Linked DNA regions of Homo sapiens. The protein of the gene in region 1 purifies or fractionates together with the protein of each later gene. This does not show direct contact. Each region holds a gene or a part of one and is shown on either strand. Other genes may lie near its edges.

Evidence for each region.
Region 2: the proteins of BST1 (region 1) and DHODH purify together in Homo sapiens (affinity purification with mass spectrometry; one large-scale study listed by BioGRID and IntAct). This does not show direct contact.
Region 3: the proteins of BST1 (region 1) and GXYLT2 purify together in Homo sapiens (affinity purification with mass spectrometry; one large-scale study listed by BioGRID and IntAct). This does not show direct contact.

The regions. Positions count from the first base shown.
Region 1 is NC_000004.12:15,727,028-15,730,292, forward strand, and holds part of BST1 (ADP-ribosyl cyclase/cyclic ADP-ribose hydrolase 2 precursor), read left to right. Parts: intron 1-3,265. UniProt on the Homo sapiens protein: Catalyzes both the synthesis of cyclic ADP-beta-D-ribose (cADPR) from NAD(+), and its hydrolysis to ADP-D-ribose (ADPR).
Region 2 is NC_000016.10:72,011,590-72,015,243, reverse strand, and holds part of DHODH (dihydroorotate dehydrogenase (quinone), mitochondrial), read right to left. Parts: intron 3,195-3,654; coding exon 2,982-3,194; intron 772-2,981; coding exon 572-771; intron 1-571. UniProt on the Homo sapiens protein: Catalyzes the conversion of dihydroorotate to orotate with quinone as electron acceptor. Required for UMP biosynthesis via de novo pathway.
Region 3 is NC_000003.12:72,953,958-72,957,611, forward strand, and holds part of GXYLT2 (glucoside xylosyltransferase 2 precursor), read left to right. Parts: intron 1-1,140; coding exon 1,141-1,392; intron 1,393-3,271; coding exon 3,272-3,395; intron 3,396-3,654.

The DNA.
Region 1 (3,265 bases):
GTGTCAGGCTTCCAGCTGGCACTCTGGAGTCATCATCTCATTTTACTCCAACCACATTCCTAGAAGGAAGACAGTTTGATTGTCATCAATGATGCTGAGGTTCAGAAGGATTAAGTGATCATTTAATGTTACTCAGAGGCCGAAGCAAAACGGAGATTTGTCTGTGTGTAAAGTTCTCATTCTTCCTACCACACCACACTGCCTTAAAATGTCTCTGGGTCTCACACCACAGCAGGTAAGTAAGGGGTTTGCAGTTCCTGACCTGTTCTTCCCTGTGTGTGGGCATTCTTTCAGTGACTGTTGGTAGACATTTTTGACAATTCTGGCTGATTCCTTTGAATGTCAAGGATAAAACTCTCTTTCACTCTGCCAAGTTTTTCACCAACTTTCATCACCCTGGCAGGAATTTTTCTAATCTATTTTTTAAACATTCTAGCTGTGAATAGTCATAGATAATTTACAAAAGAGAAACCACAAATAGCAAATATACAAAATTATTTAATCACTCTAATAATAATGGAAAACAAATTCAACAAGGTGTCATTTTCACCTAAACTTTCTTGGCATACATTAAAACATAGCAGAAAAATGTTTTAGAGATGTTATTCAATGCTTGATGTCACTGTAAATTGATAAAGTGCTTTGGGAAAACAATTTGACAATATGTGTCAAGAATTAGAAAAATATCACAGTCTTTGACCTAGGTCACACTTTAGGGTACTTTTGGTGCCCTATTCCAAACAAGTGATTTGAAATGCACATACAGCCTATATGCTCAAATATGTTCTCCAGAGCATTCTTTATAATACTGAAATACTGGGAACTGGACTCAAATATCCACTGACAAGTAAACAGTTACATCAAAGGGTACACTTACTGGAGGGAGTAGAATATAGCCCTTAAAGACAATGGTAGGATAATCATACAGCAAGCAGAAGACCCCATGAATAATCCAAGGGGAAAAAACCAACCTTAGCGCTTATAGGTTATAATATTGGCCAAAAATTCAGTAGACTTTTAATCTGCAGGATTGGTGATGATATGAGAAAACAGACATATAGTACTGGAATGAGGACTCAGTGTGGCACTAAGGGCCAAAGGCAAACATCAGATCTTTTAACTTAGCTGGAAGGCTCTATCCTAAATGCCCCAGGCCACAGAGACAGGACTACTCATCTCTACTTGTTTAGGAATAGTGGGGTAAAGGGCTTTTAATCTGCAAAGGTTTCAAATGAAATAAACAACTGTTGATGTAAATCCACCCATTTTATTAATAGTTTTGTGGTAAATTTAGGGACAATCTGTATGTTTTGGTATTTAATTATTGGCAATATTTTAGAGAATGTAGCATATAAGAACAGCTGTTGGATTAAACCTGTGATGCCAGTATATGGGTTACTATTAAGTAACTAATTCTTTTTCTTTTTTTTTTTTTTTTTTTGGAGACAGGTTATCGCTCTGTCACCCAGGCATGGAGTGCAGTGGTGTGATCATGGCATATTGTAACCTCAACCTCCTGGGTTCAAGTGATCCTCCTGCCTCATCCTTTCAAGTGGCTGAGACTACAGGAGCAAGCCAGCACTACTGGAAAATTTTCTTTTCCCTTCCTTCCTTCCTTTTTTTTTTTTTTTTTTTGATGGAGTCTTGCTCTGTCACCCAGGCTAGAGTTCAGTGGCTTGATCTTGGCTCATCACTGCAGCCTCCACCTCCTGGGCTCAAGTGATTCTCCTGCCTCAGCCTGCCAAGTAGCTGGGCCCACAGGTGTGAGCTACCACGCCTGGCTGATTTTTGTATTTTTAGTGGAGATGAAGTTTTACCATGTTGGCCAGGCTGGTCTCAAACTCCTGACTTCAGGTGATCCTTCTGCCTTGGCCTCCCAAAGTGCTGGGATTATAGGTGTGAACCACCATGCTCAGCCAAGTAACTGATTTTAGGCTTGGGATTTTTAGTAGGAAGTTATAAGAGAATTTTACTAAGTTTTGAACCAGTATTGGAATTTGTAAAAGAATTAAGATTAAATTTTATACATTTATTAGGTTTACTACAATCAAGTAATTGAGAAAGTTTTGCTAATTTAAAGTCATTTAAAATATTTTTTAAAAAAGATGTAATATTTTAATATTTAAGTTGAAAATAACCTGAAGCCTTGCCCAGTGGCTCATGCCTGTAACCGTAGCACTTTGGGAGTTCAGTGCGGGAGGATCACTTGAACCCAGGCATTCAAGACCAGCCTAGGCAACATGGCGAGACCCCGCCTCTACAAGCAAACAAACAAAAAATTGGCTGGGTATGTTGGTGTGCACCTATGGTCCCAGCTACTCAGGAGTCTGAGGCAGGAGGATTCTCTAAACCCGGGAAGGTCAATGCTTCAACGAGCTGTAGTCATGCCACTGCACTCCAGCCTGGGTGACAGAATGAGACCCTGTCTCAAAGAATAATAATAATAATAATAACTTAACCTGAAATAACTTGAGTTTAAAACATCACAGGAATTAAGTAAGTGTGACAAATCCTTAAGAGTTATTGTCAGAGTTCACCAGGTTTTTAAATAGAACAATGTGATTTATAAATTAAATAAAAGGGCATGGGAAAATTAGGCTTTTGAGTATATAAATGTAATAACAAGAATCAATTTTAAAAATCAAAGTAACTGCAAATAGTGCAGTTACCCCCTCAAGTATAGTCTCACATTGACAAGAAAAGGTTTTTAAGCTACAAAGTGAGAAACCAATGCACAGAACATGAACCGAGACATGTAAACCAGAAGAAAGCAAAACAGCATGTTTCTATTTGTGCATGATAATGGATGTAAGTGATAGAAATAGGTCTGAGAAAGTAAACTCCAAGCACCTAACTGTGGGTTCCTTCTAGGCAAAGGAATAGAAACTGGAAAAAGATGAAGGGAGGCTGTCATTATTAGTGTATCTAATTATGTGTTATTTTATTTTTTAAAAAAGTAAAGAAAAATGTAACCTTATGTTAATTAGTTAATTATTTGAAAGCAAAAGTAATTTTAAATTTTGAGTGAATCGAGTCTGGGACATTAACTGCATCACAGGTGCAATTGTAGAAAATGTCCGGTAGGTGGAGCACTAATACAAACCTGTGGGTCAGATTTCTTTAGCAAAAAAGAGAGGACCAGCATTCAAATGGAGTCAGGAACTTTTAAGGACAGGGCCACTAGTCCAGAGCCATGGGATATATTTCCAAGCCAACATTAGATGGTTTCATAATTTTAAAATTCATCTTTTAGTTGGTTTAAAAG
Region 2 (3,654 bases), on another chromosome or scaffold:
TGGCTCTTGAAGACTTGGTACAGGCAAAAGAAGGTAAAAACAGCGAATTAATACTTTTTATGGTGTTTTAAATATACGTTTTTTTAAATACTTGTAACATTAAATATAAATTATAATTTTAAGTAAGTATTAACTTCACTCATTTCTGTTTACTGTGTTAATGTGGTCACTAGAGTACTTTAAATTACATATGGGGCTCACATTACATTTCTCCTGGACAGTGTCGAGTAAGAGCATTGGAGAAACAACATGGACAGAGCACAAACTCTCAAGTCCAATAAGCCCAGGCCATGCCCAAGCTCTCCTGCTTATTATCTCCGTGACCGAAGCGGAGTTATTTAGCTCTATGAGCCTCCATCTACCCAACTGTTAAATGGACGTAACAAAGCATGCTTTTCAAGATAGATGCCTGGGGCACATAGTAGATGCTGAACAGGGTTCCTGAACATTCCAAATGACAGAAGAATGTCCACATTGTATGAGAGAAAAAAAACAGAGGCAGATCTTATATCTCTGAACGCCCCCAGCTGGAAAGAGGGCATCCCCCGTTAACTCTGGGCCGCTCACCTACCTGTTAATGACAGCTTGGTCCTCAGGGAGGCGGAAGACTCTGGGTCTAGGGTTTCCTTCCTGAGGTTTTGGAGTCACACTTCCTATCTCAACAAAACCAAAGCCCATCTTATAAAGTCCGTCCACGGCTTCCCCATGCTTGTCAAATCCTGCAGCAATTCCTACTGGATTTCGGAATTTATGGCCCAGAACTCTCACTTCCTGGGAAGAGGAAGACAAAGTCAGAGGCACGCTAAGGCTATCCCGGTATTTCTCAAAGCATGGTTCCTGGCACAGCTACATCAGAATGACCTGGGAAGCTTGTGAAACCTCAGATCCCAGGGCCCACCCCCAAGGTCAAAATCTTTGGGGGTGGAATGGAGCACTGGGGGAACTATTTTTAACAGTGCTGGCTCTCCAGGGGACTGTGACACCAGCTAGAGTTTGAAAACCACGGGGCTTTATTATTAGCAAGCCTGGGGGGAGAAATGGTGTTTCCACCGTGGGTTGAAGCGGAGACGAGCACTGTCTTTTCCAATTGTGGTTAAGGTTCATACCTTCTTATCAACTAGCCTTGGTGGGAGGGAGTAGCTCGCTGGTGTCAGGCCCTAGATAGTGCTTCCCTGAAACCAAGGCGTGTCAAGCAGCAAAACCCTTTAATCAGCTTAATAAACATCAGCTCCAGCTGTGTCCCTCCTCATCCGGGCTGGCAAGAAGCCCCAGCCACGTCCCCCAGCCTCCCACGGGGAACCAGAGGAAGGAAGATGTTCAGCTGGGCAGAACTGACTGATGGGCTCCAGCGACCTTTCAGGAGACTAGCAAAGGCCTCCCGGGGTGAACACGGTCGGATCCTGGAAGCAGGGGATTAAGAGAGATGCTCCAAGAAGGAAGAGCAACAAATGAAGGTGAGAATGCTCACAGCACCTCAGGAGACTGGTAGGCAAGATGTGTAGGGGCCTTCCTCCAGGACCGTGGTTCTCAGCTCCAGCTGCACCACAAAGGCCCCTGGCAGCTTTCAGGTCCTGCTCTCAGATGTGGCGGTGAAACTGGTCTGGCACCAGGCCAGGGCATCTGAATATTCCAAGTGCACCCCCGGGGGATTCTAACATGCCTGACATAGGTGAAGGGTGGAGAGCCAAACCAGGAAAGTTGTGAAATCAAGAATCCTGGTTACCGGTTAAAAAGTCTGAGTCACATTCTAAATGAGCTGCTGCAAGTGTGGGCCCACGCAGAGGTGTTGAGGACAACACCTCAGAGGTCAGGTTTGCCTGTCTCTGTCATCTGTGTTTATACAGACACAGCTTGCACCCTCAGGCACCCCGCACTTCCTTCTAAATTCACCCCATCTCTGCACCCCACTCATTATTCACTCCCATTTTACACTGGTTCCAGGGCTCTCAAACTAGCAGTCTGAGGTGAGGACACCTTAACGGAGTGCTCTTTCTGAGCCTACAGTGCCTGTTAGTGTGTGAGCATGGCCAGTCAGGGGAAATGACACGTCTGCTCAACACCATATAATCAGATAGTGAAGAGGAGTCTAAGGTAGGAAGAGAAAATGCGGTGAAGGCCCCTTTAATTTATAACAGTGACCCTTCCCACCAGAGTTCTGAGGGCTTCTTGTTTGCATTTTCACACTCATCATTCTGATGTCCTCCCATTTGGTAAGAAGCCTCTCGAAAGGAAACTGCCAAGGCTTCCATGAGGAAGCAGCTTCCATGAGGATGGGGACTCTTTTATTCGGTTTGCTGCACTAAGCCCGGAAGGTCACATGAAACAGAGGCCCTTAGCCTTCCGCTGACACTGGCCTCTGCAGTCAGAGGCTGTATCTACACTTCTGCCTACACACCCTCTTCCTGCCCTAGAGGCTTTCCTGGGACTCTAGGCCAAAGATTTCAAGCATATGGAGAGGGCCCGTGTGCTGAACACGTGGCTGAGTGAGGCTGGGACACGATGCTCCTGCCTCTCACCAGTGCTTAATGACTCTGGCAGCTTCCCCATTTAGCTGAGGGGAAGACTGAGCTACCCACGACCTCAGCAAGGCAGGACAGTGGCCAAGGGGCGGGAAGCCAGCGTCAGACTCTGTGGGTTTGAATCCTGGTCCTGCTACCTCCTAGCTGTGTGACTTGAGTTCCTTTATGTTGCTAATCTGTTCCTCAGTTTCCTGATCCATGGCTGGGGATGGTAACAGGATCCAGCTCATGGAGCAGCTGGGAGGATCAAACAAGAACACCGCCTAACACAATCCCATATACGTAATAGATAATCATCGTTGCTAATTACATGACATAAAATAATAATGCTCAGACTGAATTCCAAATCCCCACTGCTCACTTGGGGTTCTGGTTTTCAAAAAGATCAGTCCCAGCTGAGAAGTTTAGGGGACTGCAGCCTTCGCCTTTGTATTTAATGTATAGGGTGTCTGGGAGCACTACCAGCATGTCAGAGTCTTGAAATCTGGCCCGTGGAAGGAGCCCCAGGGAGGTGAAGCGAACAGCCAGTCTGTGGGCTGACTCCGGGTCCAGCAGCCCCTGCAGAGTCGGCATCAGGTGTTCAGCATAGAAACGCTCATCTCCCGTGGCCATCAGGTAGGAGGCGAAGAGAAGTCCTCCTCCCCCCAGGATGATCACAGCATCCTGGGCCCGCTTCTGCAAAAAAGAGCATATTAGGGGGGTCCCCCAGGCCAGGCTGCAGCACCCTTCCTGAGCCCTTCACACCCAGGTACACAGAGGGCATAACGGCAGGTCACATGAAACAGACGCCCTTAGCCTTCCGCTGACACTGGTCTCTACAGTCAGAGGCTGTATCTATACTTCTGCCTACACACCTTCTTCAGGCCCTAAAGGCTGTCCTGGGACTCCAGGCCAGAAATTTAAAGAGGGACAGTACTGTCCCCTAGGGTGATCGTGGTGGACACTGCTACTGGTTACAGTGACAGGGTAATGCTAATAGATGTGGTGGGCAGGAATCCATAAAGTCAGACATCCTTCTTGGCTTGAGACTATCTGACATGAACTGCCCCATTTCCTGTGTGACTTTTGAACATTCTGACATTTGTGTGGGTAAAAATTATCCGTTCATATTATCTAAGCCAAACTATATTTTACC
Region 3 (3,654 bases), on another chromosome or scaffold:
GTGTGTAGCTGTCGTCCTAGCTACTCGGGAGGCTGAGGTGGGACGACCACTTGAGTCCAGGAGATTGAGAGTGCAGTGAGCCAAGAGCATGCCACTGCACTGCAACCCGGACAACAGAGCAAGACCCTCATCTGCAAACTATATATTTTTTTAATTTTTTATTTTGAAATGGAGTCTTGCTCTGTTGCCAGGCTAGAGTGTAGTGGTGCTATCTTGGTTCACTGGAACCTCCGCCCCCTCCCCGGGTTCAAGCGATTCTTCTGCCTCAGCCTCCTGAGTAGGTGGGACTACAGGCGCACACCACCACGCCCAGCTAATTTTTGTATTTTTAGTAGAGACAGGGTTTCAACATGTTGGCCAGGATGGTCTCGATCTCTTGACCTCGTGATCCGCCTGCCTTGGCCTCCCAAAGTGCTGGAATTACAGGCCACTGCTCCCAGCCTGTGTGTGTGTGTGTGTGTGTGTGTGTGTGTGTGTATTTGTATTTATATATATTTATATATATTTTAAAAGATGCAGGGCCCCCCATTAACACTAGAAGAAATGGATCCAAAGATGGAGAGTATTTACCCCCAAGGCTTGGTATGAGCTGCTTTAGAGATTGTCCACTTCAGGTTGCAGTAAGCCAAGATCAGGCCACTGCACTCCAGCCTGGGCGACAGAGTGAGACTCCATCTCAAAAATAAATAAATAAATAAATAAATAAATAAATAAATAAATAGAGATTGTCCACTTCAGGTTTTCTAATGCCACACTGGATGTTCCAAGGAAAACCTAAGAGAGAAAAACAAGTGGCCTTATTGGAAGATGGAAGAAGTGAGAGCCACAATAATTTGCTGATGTTTTCTTTTTTTTGTAAGTTCAACCCTTATCAAATATAGTCCAGGGTCCCAGAATTGGGCTAATCCAGACCAAGATTTATCTTCTTTTAAGTCTCTACCTCTTGATTGACACTCATTCCTCAAGTCAAAGGAGAAGGAAGGAATGGAAGCTAAGAGTGGTACCTTTCCAGAATTTAATACGAATCAACAAAAGTTGGTAGCATTATTTACCTATCAGGCTACTTCCTTTGTTTCTGACCTGTTTTTGTTTTGTTTTCTTCCCTCCTCTCCCCTTTACACCCACTCCTTACACACAAAGGTGATTTTAAAGGATGTGGACTCACTTCTCTACGTGGACACCGATGTCCTCTTTCTGAGACCTGTTGATGACATCTGGAAGCTTCTGAGGCTGTTTAATTCCACCCAGCTTGCAGCCATGGCCCCTGAGCACGAAATCCCCAAGATTGGCTGGTACAGCCGCTTTGCTAGGCATCCTTTCTATGGCTCTGCAGGAGTTAATTCAGGAGTCATGTTAATGAATTTAACTCGGATAAGAAGTACCCAGTTCAAGGTAAACGAGTGCTTTAAAATTCCTTGTTTAAAGACTGGGAGTTGGTCTTGTCAACAGTGGCACTACCAGAGTGTCAATATGCTGATTTTGGAAATTGGGTGGCCTATAGGTGAGGATAAAAGGAACCAGAGAAAAGTATTTAGAAAATTATAGAATATTTGTTTATTCAGGAAAAGCTCAGATGGCAATGGAATTTAAAGCTTCAGCAAAGTCGCCATTCAGGAATACTATGTTGCATTTCTGAATTCCATAATGTTTGAACGCTTCATACCCAATGCTTCAAAGACTATGTAAAATTTCTTCAAATTACCCTAGGGATTATTTATGTAAGTCCGTGACGATATTTGTATAAGGATGTTCGTGATCTCATCTTTTATCCTAGCAAAGAAGTGGAAAGAAGCTAAAAGAACATCAGTAGAGAACTAGTCAAAAAAAATTATCCTCCTGGCCAGGGGTGGTGGCTCACACTTGTAATCCCAGCACTTTGGAAGACCAAGGCAGGTGGATCACTTGAGGCCAGGAGTTTGAGACCAGCCTGACCAACATGGCGAAACCCTGTCTCTATTAAAAACACAAAAATTAGCCAGGAATGATGGCGCACACCTGTAGTCCTAGCTATTCAGGAGCCTAAGGCAGGAGAATCGTGTGAACCCGAACAGCAGAGGTTGCAGTGAGCCAAGATCACGCCACTGTACTCCAGCCTGGCGACAGAGACTGTGATTATTTGTATGCCTTAGAAATTTCCAGAAGAATTAATGGGGCATGGTGTCACGTGGCTGTAGTCTCAGCTACTTGGGAGGCTGAGATGGGAGGATCGCTTGAGCCCAGGAGGTCGAGGCTGCATTATAGCCACTGCACTTCACCCTAAACAACAGAGTGAGACCCTGTCTCTAAAAAAAGAAAGAAAGAAAGAAAAAGACATGTCCAGAAGAATACCTAAGAGACCATTAATTGTTAACTGTGGATACGTCTGGGGAAAATGGGAATGGGATATGGAAGAAGAATATTTTTACTTTTTTATTTTATATTTTTGTGTGCTGTTTGAATAATTCAGTCTGTGAATATGTTACTTTTATTTTAAAAGTAAATCATTGTTTAAGACAAGGAAAGGTGTTTTTCCTTAAGATACCTGAACTCTGTTATCTGTATTTTGTTCCTTCACCTCACAGTGAGGAAATAAGCCTAAGAAAGATGTTCACCTAAGAAAGGTGAAGTAGAGTAGAGAATCCTGAAGTAGAGACTGCTGTTGAGAAAGACTTCGCCTCTTAGGTGTGGGGACTCACGCCTATAATCCCAGCACTTTGGGAGGGAGGTGGGTCACTCGAGGTCAGGAGTTTGATATCAGCCTCGCCAACAGGGGGAAACCCCATCTCTACTAAAAATACAAAAAGTTAGCCGGGCGTGATGGCGTGCACCCGTAGTCTCAGCTGCCTGGGAGGCTGAGGCACGAGAATCGCTTGAACCCGGGAGGTGGAGGTTGCAGTAAGCCAAGATTGTGCCACTGCATGCCAGCCTGGGCGACAGAGCAAGACTCTGTCTCAAAACAAAAACAAAAACAAAAACACAGGAAGGAAGGGAGGGAGGGAGGGAGGGAAGAGAAGAAAGGAAGGGGTTCAATTCCAGGCATGGTTTTCTGAGTAGAAACCATAGGTTCAACTTTCAGTCCCTGGTCTATCTAGTATCCGTGTGTACAGCTGAAAAAAGCGATACAATCAACAGCCCAAATTTTGCTTTGTTCTGTGACCTGAGAATAGCAGGACCCCTCCTGTATTTGTTTCCCTCCTCTGAAGGGAAGAAAACTAGTCCCTTTACATTGTTTCTCAGTGGACAAAATGTATTTGCTTTGCTTCAGCTGTTCTGATGGTTTTCTTTTTTCCAGAACAGCATGATTCCAACAGGCCTGGCTTGGGAGGACATGTTGTACCCTCTGTACCAGAAGTACAAGAATGCCATCACGTGGGGAGACCAGGATTTATTAAATATTATTTTTTATTTCAACCCAGGTAGGTTATCTTTGGAGAATGCCTTTTGTGTAGGAGTACACTCAGCACACCCCACGGAGCACATTCCATGCCCGGGTTGCTATTGACTAGGCTTGAATTGTGCACAGAGGAGCCTGTGTTCCCCAGCGAAGTTTGCCCTTTCATCCGCCCCCCTGGGTATCTGATGGAGGCGGGGCCTTGCACTACTGACACAAAAGGCCAAATGTTGAAACTTCCAACACTGGACTCATTTTTAGAGAGTATCTTTTAGGTTTTGCTA